Regions from separate parts of the Homo sapiens genome. Here region 1 is linked to region 2. The links come from fine-mapping of genetic effects on gene expression. A gene starts in region 2. The other region holds a variant in brackets. All regions are shown on one strand. Distances are between the middles of the regions. Region 1 has its middle 23 kb from the start of RAB1A. Region 2 holds the start of RAB1A (RAB1A, member RAS oncogene family).

Region 1 (4,396 bases), 23 kb before region 2:
GCGCCTGTAATCCCAGCTACTCGGGAGGCTGAGGCAAGAGAATCGCTTGAACTGGGGAGGTGGAGGTTGCAGTGAGTCGAGATTATGCCACTGCACTCTAGCCTGGGCAACAGAGCAAGACTCCAGGAAGTGGAGGTTGCAGTTAGCCGAGATTGTGCCACTGCACTCCTGCCTGGGTGACAGAGTGAGATTATCTCTCCAAAACAAAAACAAATAAATAATAAAAGTAAGAATTAAAAAAGAGGCAAAATAAGAGCCTAAAAATGTACTACCAAGGTAAAAGGTAATATCAAAAAGCTACCTGGTGTCTGGCAGGAATGTTGCAAGAGTGTTATTGTATAACAGGGCTTCACAAACTTTCATGTTCCTAGAAATCACTCAGGGATTGTGTTAGGATGCAGATTCTGATTCAATAGGTCTTGGGTAGGCCTGAGAATCTGCATTTCTAATAAGCTCCCAAGTGATGCTGATGCTGCTGGTCCAGGAACCTCAGTTTAATGAGTGAAGTAGAGGACATGTGGACCATGGTATCTGCCTTACTTGATAACCCCTCATAGCTGAAACTGATCATACTCCTCCACGGTCCTCCATTCAGGACTTTTGTGAGGAGTCGAGAGGGGAGCATATTCATTGGCCCCACAGTGGGCTTCTGACTCAAGGAGAACTCTTCCATAGGCTAGGCTTCAAAATGCAAGATGCTGGGGCCTAAGGCAGCTATGACAATTAGCTGGGCCACTTGGACAAGGAATTTGCACGAAAGCACAGGCCAGGCCCCAGAGGTAGTGACTATAACTCCCAAGGGGCCAGATAGGCTTGCTAGTTCCATTCATTCTGTGTGTCCAAAACACTTCCTCCCCTTTTCTTCACATAGTCTGGATACATTCACTCACTCATTTCTTCCTTCAACAAGTATGTATTGAGCATCTACTCTACTGGAGGCACAGTTCTGGGCTCCAGAGGTACAACGGAGAGTAAAATAAGGCCCCTCATCTCAGGAAGTTTGCATTCAGACTTTTCAGACAAATTGGTGCATGAATTATATACACTTCCAGGTGATAAAGAAAGTGAGAGGTGAATGAAAATACTCTTTAATTTTTTCACAATTATACTTTAGAGCAGGGGTCCCCAATCCTCAGGTTGTGGACTGGTACTGGTCTGTGACCTATTAGGAACTGGCCCACACAGCAGGCGATGAGTGGCGGGTGAGCAAGCAAAGCTTCATCTGTATTTACAGTCTGTCCCCATGACTCACATTACCACCTGAGCTCTGCCTCCTGTCAGATCAGTGGTGATATCAGATTCTCATAGGAGCATGAAACCTATTGTGAACTGTGCATGCAAGGGATCTAGACTGCACGTTCCTTATGAGAATCTAATGCCTGATGATCTGTCACTGTCTCCCATCATCCCCATATGGGACTGTCTAGTTGCAGGAAAACAAGCTCAAGGCTCCCACTAATTCTACATTATGGTGACTTGTATGACTATTTCATTATGCATTACAATGTAATATTAATAATAGCAGAAATAAAGTGCACAATACATGTAATGTACTCGAATCATCCCAAATCAATCCACCCCGCCATTCTGGTCCATGAAAAAATTGCTTTCCACGAAACTGGTGACTGGTGCCAAAATGTTGGGGCCTGCTGCTTTAGAGGGCATTTATTTTTAAACAACATTATCTGAAAATGGCGTGGGATAAGTTGTTGGTTCCCACTTTAATGCTGAGCTTTTTTTTTTTTTTTTTGAGACAGGGTCTCGTTCTGTCACCCAGGCTGGAGTGCAGTGGTGCCATCTCGGTTCACTGCAAGCTCCACCTCCTGGGTTCTCGCCATTCTCCTGCCTCAGCCTCCCGAGTAGCTGGGACTACAGGCGCCCGCCACCACACCTGGCTAATTTTTTTTTGTATTTTTTTGTAGAGACGGAGTTTCACTGTGCTAGCCAGGATGGTCTCGATCTCCTGACCTCGTGATCCACCCGCCTCGGTCTCCCAAAGTGCTGGGATTACAGGCATGAGCCACCAC[G/A]CCCGGCCTGAACATTTTTTAAGTACTATTGTAGGATACAAAAGAAAGTCACATACTTATATTGAATGTATGAACTTAAAAGAAAGACTACAAGTCAGCCGGGACAAGTCTAAAATGGAGCAACTAAAAGCATTTGGAATTCTGACATTCCAAACCTGTCCTTGTTTTCCTTTTTTTTTTTTTTTTTTTTTTGAGATGGAGTCTTGCTCTGTCACCCAGGCTGGAGTGCAATGGTGCAATCTCGGCTCACTGCAACCTCAGCCTCCCGGATTCAAATGATTCTCCTGCCTCAGCCTCCTGTGTAGCTGGGATTACAGGCACATGCCACTATGCCTGGCTAATTTTTGTATTTTCAGTAGAGATGGGGTTTTACCATGTTGGCCAGGCTGGTCTTGAACTCCTGACCTCAAGTCATTTGCCCGCCTCGGCCTCCTAAAGTGCTGGTGTTACAGGTATGAGTCACGGCGCCTGGCCTGTCCTTGTTTTCTACATTAGGAAGCAGTAAAGCACAGCAGTTAAGAACATGGGTCTTAGGGTCAAATATACTTTGGTTCTAATCTCAGCCCTGCTTCTTGGGAGCCATGTGGCCTAGGGAAAGTTACTTAACCTTTCTGAGGCTCACTTTCCACATCTGTAAAGTGGAAATAATAATAATAATAATACCACCTTCACAGGATATTATTATAGGGGTTAAATAAAGCTATCTGTGTGTAATTCAATATCTACTGGCTTTTATGAATTGCTGTACTCATAAAGAGACTCTCAGGCTGGGTGCAGTGGTTCATGTCTGTAATCCAAATACTTTGGGAGGCTGAGGCAGGAGGATCAGTTGAGGCCAGGAGTTTGAGACCAGCCTGGTCAACATATCGAGATCCTGTCTACAAAATTTTTTAAAATAAAAGGTTAAAAACCTAAAAAATAAGAGATTCTCTCCTCCTTCCCTTCACAGTGACCCTGCATTACTATTTGGAATAGCCAAAGGGGTGCTTCCTAGTGCCCATCATGACCTGCCCCCTGCCCCCGCCACCCACCTGCGTCTTCTCCAGATTTGGATCCTCTTCATCCACAGTTGCTGTCTGTGGCCTCATGGTGCTACTACCCCCAAGCTGTGGTCTCTGGGTACCCTTAATGCTTCCGGGTCTCAGAGTCCAAGAACAGTGCTGGGACAAACAGAAGTGGGAGAAAGGGGCCTCTTCCTCTTCCTTCTCTGTTATTGACAGGTCTCTCAAAGTCCCTCTTGAATAATTCCATCAACGTCTGCCTCTAACCCTCACAAGTGAGCTCAAAACCAGTCCAAGGAAGGAGGTAGGATCCTTTTGCTCTCTTCCCATTCTCCAGTTCCTTAACTTCAGCTTCTCCCCTTCTCTGAATGAGCTCAGTGAGTTCCTGTGGGAATGACTTTCTCTCCACATTCTCAGTTTCAAAATAAAAACTCCCTTACATATGAATCCATATATGTTAACTGATACTGACTTAGGTGTAGGGGTTCATGGTAGAAGAAGGGGGACTATGCCATCTATAGCCACCAGGCAACAAATGCCCTGACTTATATGCATTTAAATATTGACTGCACTTCATCCCACATGAGTTGCGTGACAACTCTTTTGCAACTTTGAGTAGTATAGAGAATAATTTTGTGCACAATGCACTCTACTAGAGACACACTCAATTTTTTCTGTTACCAACAGAACAAATCAATTTCACAGACATAGTGTCAAACGTTTATTAATAAGATTTTGTGCAAAGGAAAGAAGTGGGGTGCTGCTTGTACCTTGCTTTCCCAGTCGATGAGAAAAACAATATTAATTCTCAACTCCTAATGATCTGAATGATTTTTGATGTTAATGAACTAAATTCAAGGTTGGGACTCAGAAAAAAAGAATAAAGAGGGCCAATTTCTTCTGAATGTCAGAATGAGCTCAGTGAGTTCCCATGGGAATGACTTACCTAAGCAATTGGATTTCAGGGATGACCGAAATCACTGGATTGACTATAGTGCAGTCCAGCAGGACATTTGGAAACATATTAGATAAAATTCCAAGGAACAGTGAGTATGTCCATGGATATCACACAGAAAAGAGCTTTTGGTGAATGAAATATTAAGGTTGCATGTTTTTATGTACAGTATATATTGCTGAATGTTTGATTTGATTTTTTATTGTGGTAAGATACATATAACGTAAATTTATCATTTTAACTAGTAAGTATACAGTTCTGCGGCATTAAGTACTTTCCCATTTTTGTACAAACCATCACTACTATCCATTGCTAGAACTTTTCCATCATCCCAAAGAGAAACTCTATACCCATTAAAAGTTAACTCCCCAGACTGGGTGCAGTGGCCCATGCCTGTAATCCCAGCACTTTGG
Region 2 (4,396 bases):
CTTTACTAGTGACTCAGGTCACAGTTTTCTGAGATTTTTTTTCTCCCCTCAAGACAGAATCTTGCTCTGTCGCCCAGGCTGGAGTGCAGTGGCCTCTCGGCCCACTGTAGCCTCCGCCTCCCGGGTTCAAGCAATTTTCCTGCCTCAGCCTCCCGAGTAGCTGGGATTACAGGCACGCGCCACCATGCCTGGCTAATTTTTGTATTTTTAGTAGAGACAGTGTTTCACCATGTTGGCCAGGCTGGTCTTGAATTCCTGACCTCGTGATCTGTCCGTTTTGGCCTCTCAAATTCCTGAGATTACAGGCATGAGCCACCGAGCCTGGCCAGTTTTCTGAGTTTTTATTTGAAATCAAAATAAGCTTTTTTTTTTTTTAATGGGCTTTAGAGTCCAGGGTAACGAACACTTTTTGGTGCCTATTACTGAACCATTCAGGGTATTCCTGGGGTGGTGACCGTGTTCATTTCAGAAACCAACATGTTCATTTCAGAAACCAAACTCGGGTAACTTTTGATAAGTTCATCAACTAAGGCCCATGGCAGAATTTGAGGGCTAAGGGGTGTAATTAGTGTATGGGTAGAAATAAGTGCCTTCTTTCTATATTTTGGCGTTGTAGGAATTTAAAGTGATTCTGCAGTAAGTCTCAGGAGACAATTTTCTTAGTTCTTAGAAGTTGGAAGATAAACTTTGGACAATGTATTACACTATGCCCTTTGTAATTAAATAACTCAAGATAATGTGTTAAAGTTTAGCGGAGATTTAAATTCCTGAGCTGATTAAAGAGAGCTGTTAAGGCCATAGGTTTTTTAAAAATGAGTTAATATTACTCCCAGAAATTGTAGGCACTATATAGTGATGAATTGCCTATTTTTATTGCTTATTATTTTCCAGTCTTGCAGAATGGCTCAGGGTTAGTAGCAACTAAAAGATAATACATTACAATTCAACCTGAAGGCCGGGACGAAGGTAGGAATTGGATTTTAGGCTGGCTCTGGGCTGTGTCCCTCCCATCCATGGGATGTGGAGCCATTGAAGGTTGTGGGGTCACGATGCAGGTGCTGTCTCAGAAAGATACATCCGACTGTGTGTGCAAATGGGCTGGGGCGGAGAGGAGAGAGAGAGGTAGAGTCCATTTGGAGACTACTGCAATAGCCAGGCTGACGAGTTAAGAGCGGGGCACAGTAAGAATGGGAAGAAATCTAAGAAGAAAATGGTAGTGCGCGGGGCCAACAATGGACGATGACCGAACCCAGGTGGGGATGGGTGAGTGACGAGAAGAACCGCTCCGTGCCGTCCAGGGAGCCCCTTGACTTCCCTTCTGTTCTTAGAGCGGACGTCCTCCTACCAGCCCCCAACCAGCGCCACCAGGGTGGCGCAAGCCTCAAGCTGGTCAGGTCAGCAACAGCCGCAACGGAGGCAGGAGCCGACACGCTCGTACCCCGGCCCCCTCCCCGCCCCCGCACCCCCGGCAGTCCCTCCGGTTTGACCACTCCCCCCGGTCCCTTGCCTCCCCCGACCCCCAGCCTCCGTCGGCCGCCGGCACCACCCTCCGCCCCTCTCCGCCCCCTCCCCCGTGGGGCGCTGACTCGCCCGGCTGCCACGTCTCACTGATGACATCACTAGGGCAGCTCGGCCTTAGCCAATCCGCCAGGGGGAGTCCGAGCGAAGTCCTAGCCAGCGAGTCAGAGGGGAGGGGAGCAGGGAGGGGCCGAGGGTGGGGAGGTGAGGGAGTGGGGAATGGGGCGGGCGACAACCCTTCAGGTACGCATGCCCCAGAGGCGCGGCGCTTGGCGGGAAGCTGAGTCCTGGCCTTGCGTCGCACTGTCTGTCCTCAGCTCGCGTAGCCGCGCTCGCGACTCCCTTTCCCGGCATGCCAGGCGGTGCGGCCGCCCTCTGGGCCGTGTAAAGGCCCCTCGGTCTAAGGCTTCCCTATTTCCTGGTTCGCCGGCGGCCATTTTGGGTGGAAGCGATAGCTGAGTGGCGGCGGCTGCTGATTGTGTTCTAGGGGACGGAGTAGGGGAAGACGTTTGCTCTCCCGGAACAGCCTATCTCATTCCTTTCTTTCGATTACCCGTGGCGCGGAGAGTCAGGGCGGCGGCTGCGGCAGCAAGGGCGGCGGTGGCGGCGGCGGCAGCTGCAGTGACATGTCCAGCATGAATCCCGAATAGTGAGTTCAGGAGAGCACCGGTCGGCTGGGTCCGTGGGCCAGCTTGGGGGATCTTAAAGGGGTCGAGGAGGGTTGGGGCAGAAGTCGGGGCATCGGCTGGGGTGAGGCGAGGGTGATGGGTCAGGAGAGGCTGGCGGCCGGGAGTCGGGCCCCATTGTCTGACGCGGAGGGGCGGCCGCGCGGGGGAGGGGTCGGGCCGGAGGGGTGAGCCGCCCGGGCCTGGACCGGGTCAGGTTAGAGGGCCTGACTGCGGGGCGGGTGCTGAGGAAGCCTGCCGAGGGGCCTGGGGCGGTGTGAAGGGGTATCTTCTCTCGGAGGCAGTGACTTTTGAAGGAGGACTTGTCTCTAAGGGGAGGGGATGGGGTGGGAGAGCCCTTCTAGAGGGCACTGTCAGACCCTGCGCCCGCACTCTGCGGAGCTGTCAGGATCTTCGGGGTAGAAACCAGCTTTACTTGTAAATCCTGAGCTTGTTGGCTCTCTCTCCTTCCATCCTCCCCGCCAGGTTTCAGGTAATATGGATGCTTTTCGGGACTGCGTGGGATTGAGGGGAATGAGTAGATGGTGAGAAGCAACTGAACATTTATTAGTTCTCTTTTTGAGTTGTGTCTTGGAGGAGTTGTTTAAGAGCTCGCCGGGTCCATTGCCCTCCTATAAAAACCTGGGCATTTGTGAGAATTTTGTTTTTTTTTTTTTTAAAGAGGACACCTAAGTCATTTTGTCTTCTGTGGGTCAAGGGAAAAAAAAAAAACTAAAGCCAAGAAATGTCTTTTTGATACTCGCAGATTAAAGGAAGCTTGCTGTCAAGTTGAAAGAGAAACGAACGGGACCTATGATAGATCTGTATGTAGGTTTTGGATTACCTGCTTGGATGCTTGCAGATAGGGAATGAGGTTCCATGACGTGTCATGAAAAGTTAATGCATTTCTTTTTCTTGCTTACTCAAGAAGTCACCACAGCAGATGTGACACACCTGGCACCTTTCCTGGGAACTGGTGTTCACTTCCCTTGGGTAGAGTTTGTTGGGCTCTCCTCAATGGCCCTTTAAAAATTTCCTCTACAGTTTACATGCATGTAAAGTAATGAATAATTGGAAGAGACCGAATTGGTATTCCTTTTCAGTGTCAAAGGCCTTTGAGGGATGGGGGAACATCAGTATTTGTTGTAAAAGTTGAGTTTATTTGCTGGTTTGGTCAATTACTGCTAGACATTTTCCCCTAAAAGGTCCACCCACCAGTTTAGCTGACTGTCATATGTGTGTCACATGGCTCTTGCAAAATGCTTACAAGTTTTGTAATAGTGTGGCTTGAAGCTGAAATCTTTTGCACTAAACAGAAACCGTAGTATTTTATTAGAATTTCATGTTTTAGAAGTTGAGGGTAGTGTTCTTGTAGTGACATTTGCTGTGTTGACAGTTTAAAAAAAATTTTTTTTCAAGGGCTCCAAGGACAAAGTTGGTTTTGCACAGTTGAACGGAGGTGAACTTGAGGTTCTTAATTTAGTAGTTTTCTTGGTAACAATAAAGAACATGGATTTACTGCTTTATCGAGGTTTATAGACCTCTACTGTTCAGGAAATTTTCTGAATTTGCTATATATATGTTTATTAGTGTAAATAAATCTTCAAGATTAGTTGAGAACTTTGACAAGTTACTCAGCCTCTGAATTTTTTTTCCCTTTTGTAAAATAGGATAATTGGAGTCATTATTCCTGTCAGGGTAGTGGTGAAATTCAAATGTATATAAAAGAATTTGAAAAACCGTGTGAGCATTCTTCAGGTGGTATGCATCATTTTCATGAAAGGCATTCTATTAGTACCAGGATTTAGGAATATAATCCTTGCGCTTAAGAAGTTTAGATATAGGCCAGGCGCGGTGGCTCACCTCAGTAATCCCAGCACTTTGGGAGGCCGAGGCGGGCGGATCCCGAGGTCAGGAGATCGAGACCATCCTCGGTAACACGGTGAAACCCCGTCTCTACTAAAAATGCAAAAAAATTAGCCGGGCGTGGTGGTGGGCACCTGTAGTCCCAGCTACTCGAGAGGCTGAGGCAGGAGAATGGCGTGATCCCGGGAGGTGGAGCTTGCAGTGAACCAAGATCTGGCCACTGCACTCCAGCCTGGACGACAGAGCAAGACTCCGTCTCAAAAAAAAAATTATTTATTGTTTTGAGACGGAGTTTCAATCTTGTTGCCCAGGCTGGAGTGCAATGGCGCAAATCTCCTCTCACCGCC

Evidence for each region. PIP is the estimated chance that this variant, and not a neighbour inherited with it, causes the effect.
Region 1: its variant is the best candidate, but not a certain one, in a credible set for the expression of RAB1A in whole blood (INTERVAL, PIP 0.90).

The regions. Positions count from the first base shown.
Region 1 is chr2:65,150,561-65,154,956 of GRCh38, reverse strand. No RefSeq gene overlaps it. Among named protein-coding and RNA genes, the nearest start is that of RAB1A, 23 kb to the right of the region's middle. The variant G/A (reference allele first, on the strand shown) is at 2,028.
Region 2 is chr2:65,127,664-65,132,059 of GRCh38, reverse strand. RAB1A (RAB1A, member RAS oncogene family) reads left to right here and starts at 1,954. Exons shown (of 6, transcript NM_004161.5): 1 at 1,954-2,167. The coding sequence starts at 2,145. RefSeq lists silencers at 1,456-1,805, 2,306-2,355 and enhancers at 1,658-2,171, 1,916-2,175, 2,172-2,686, 4,210-4,396.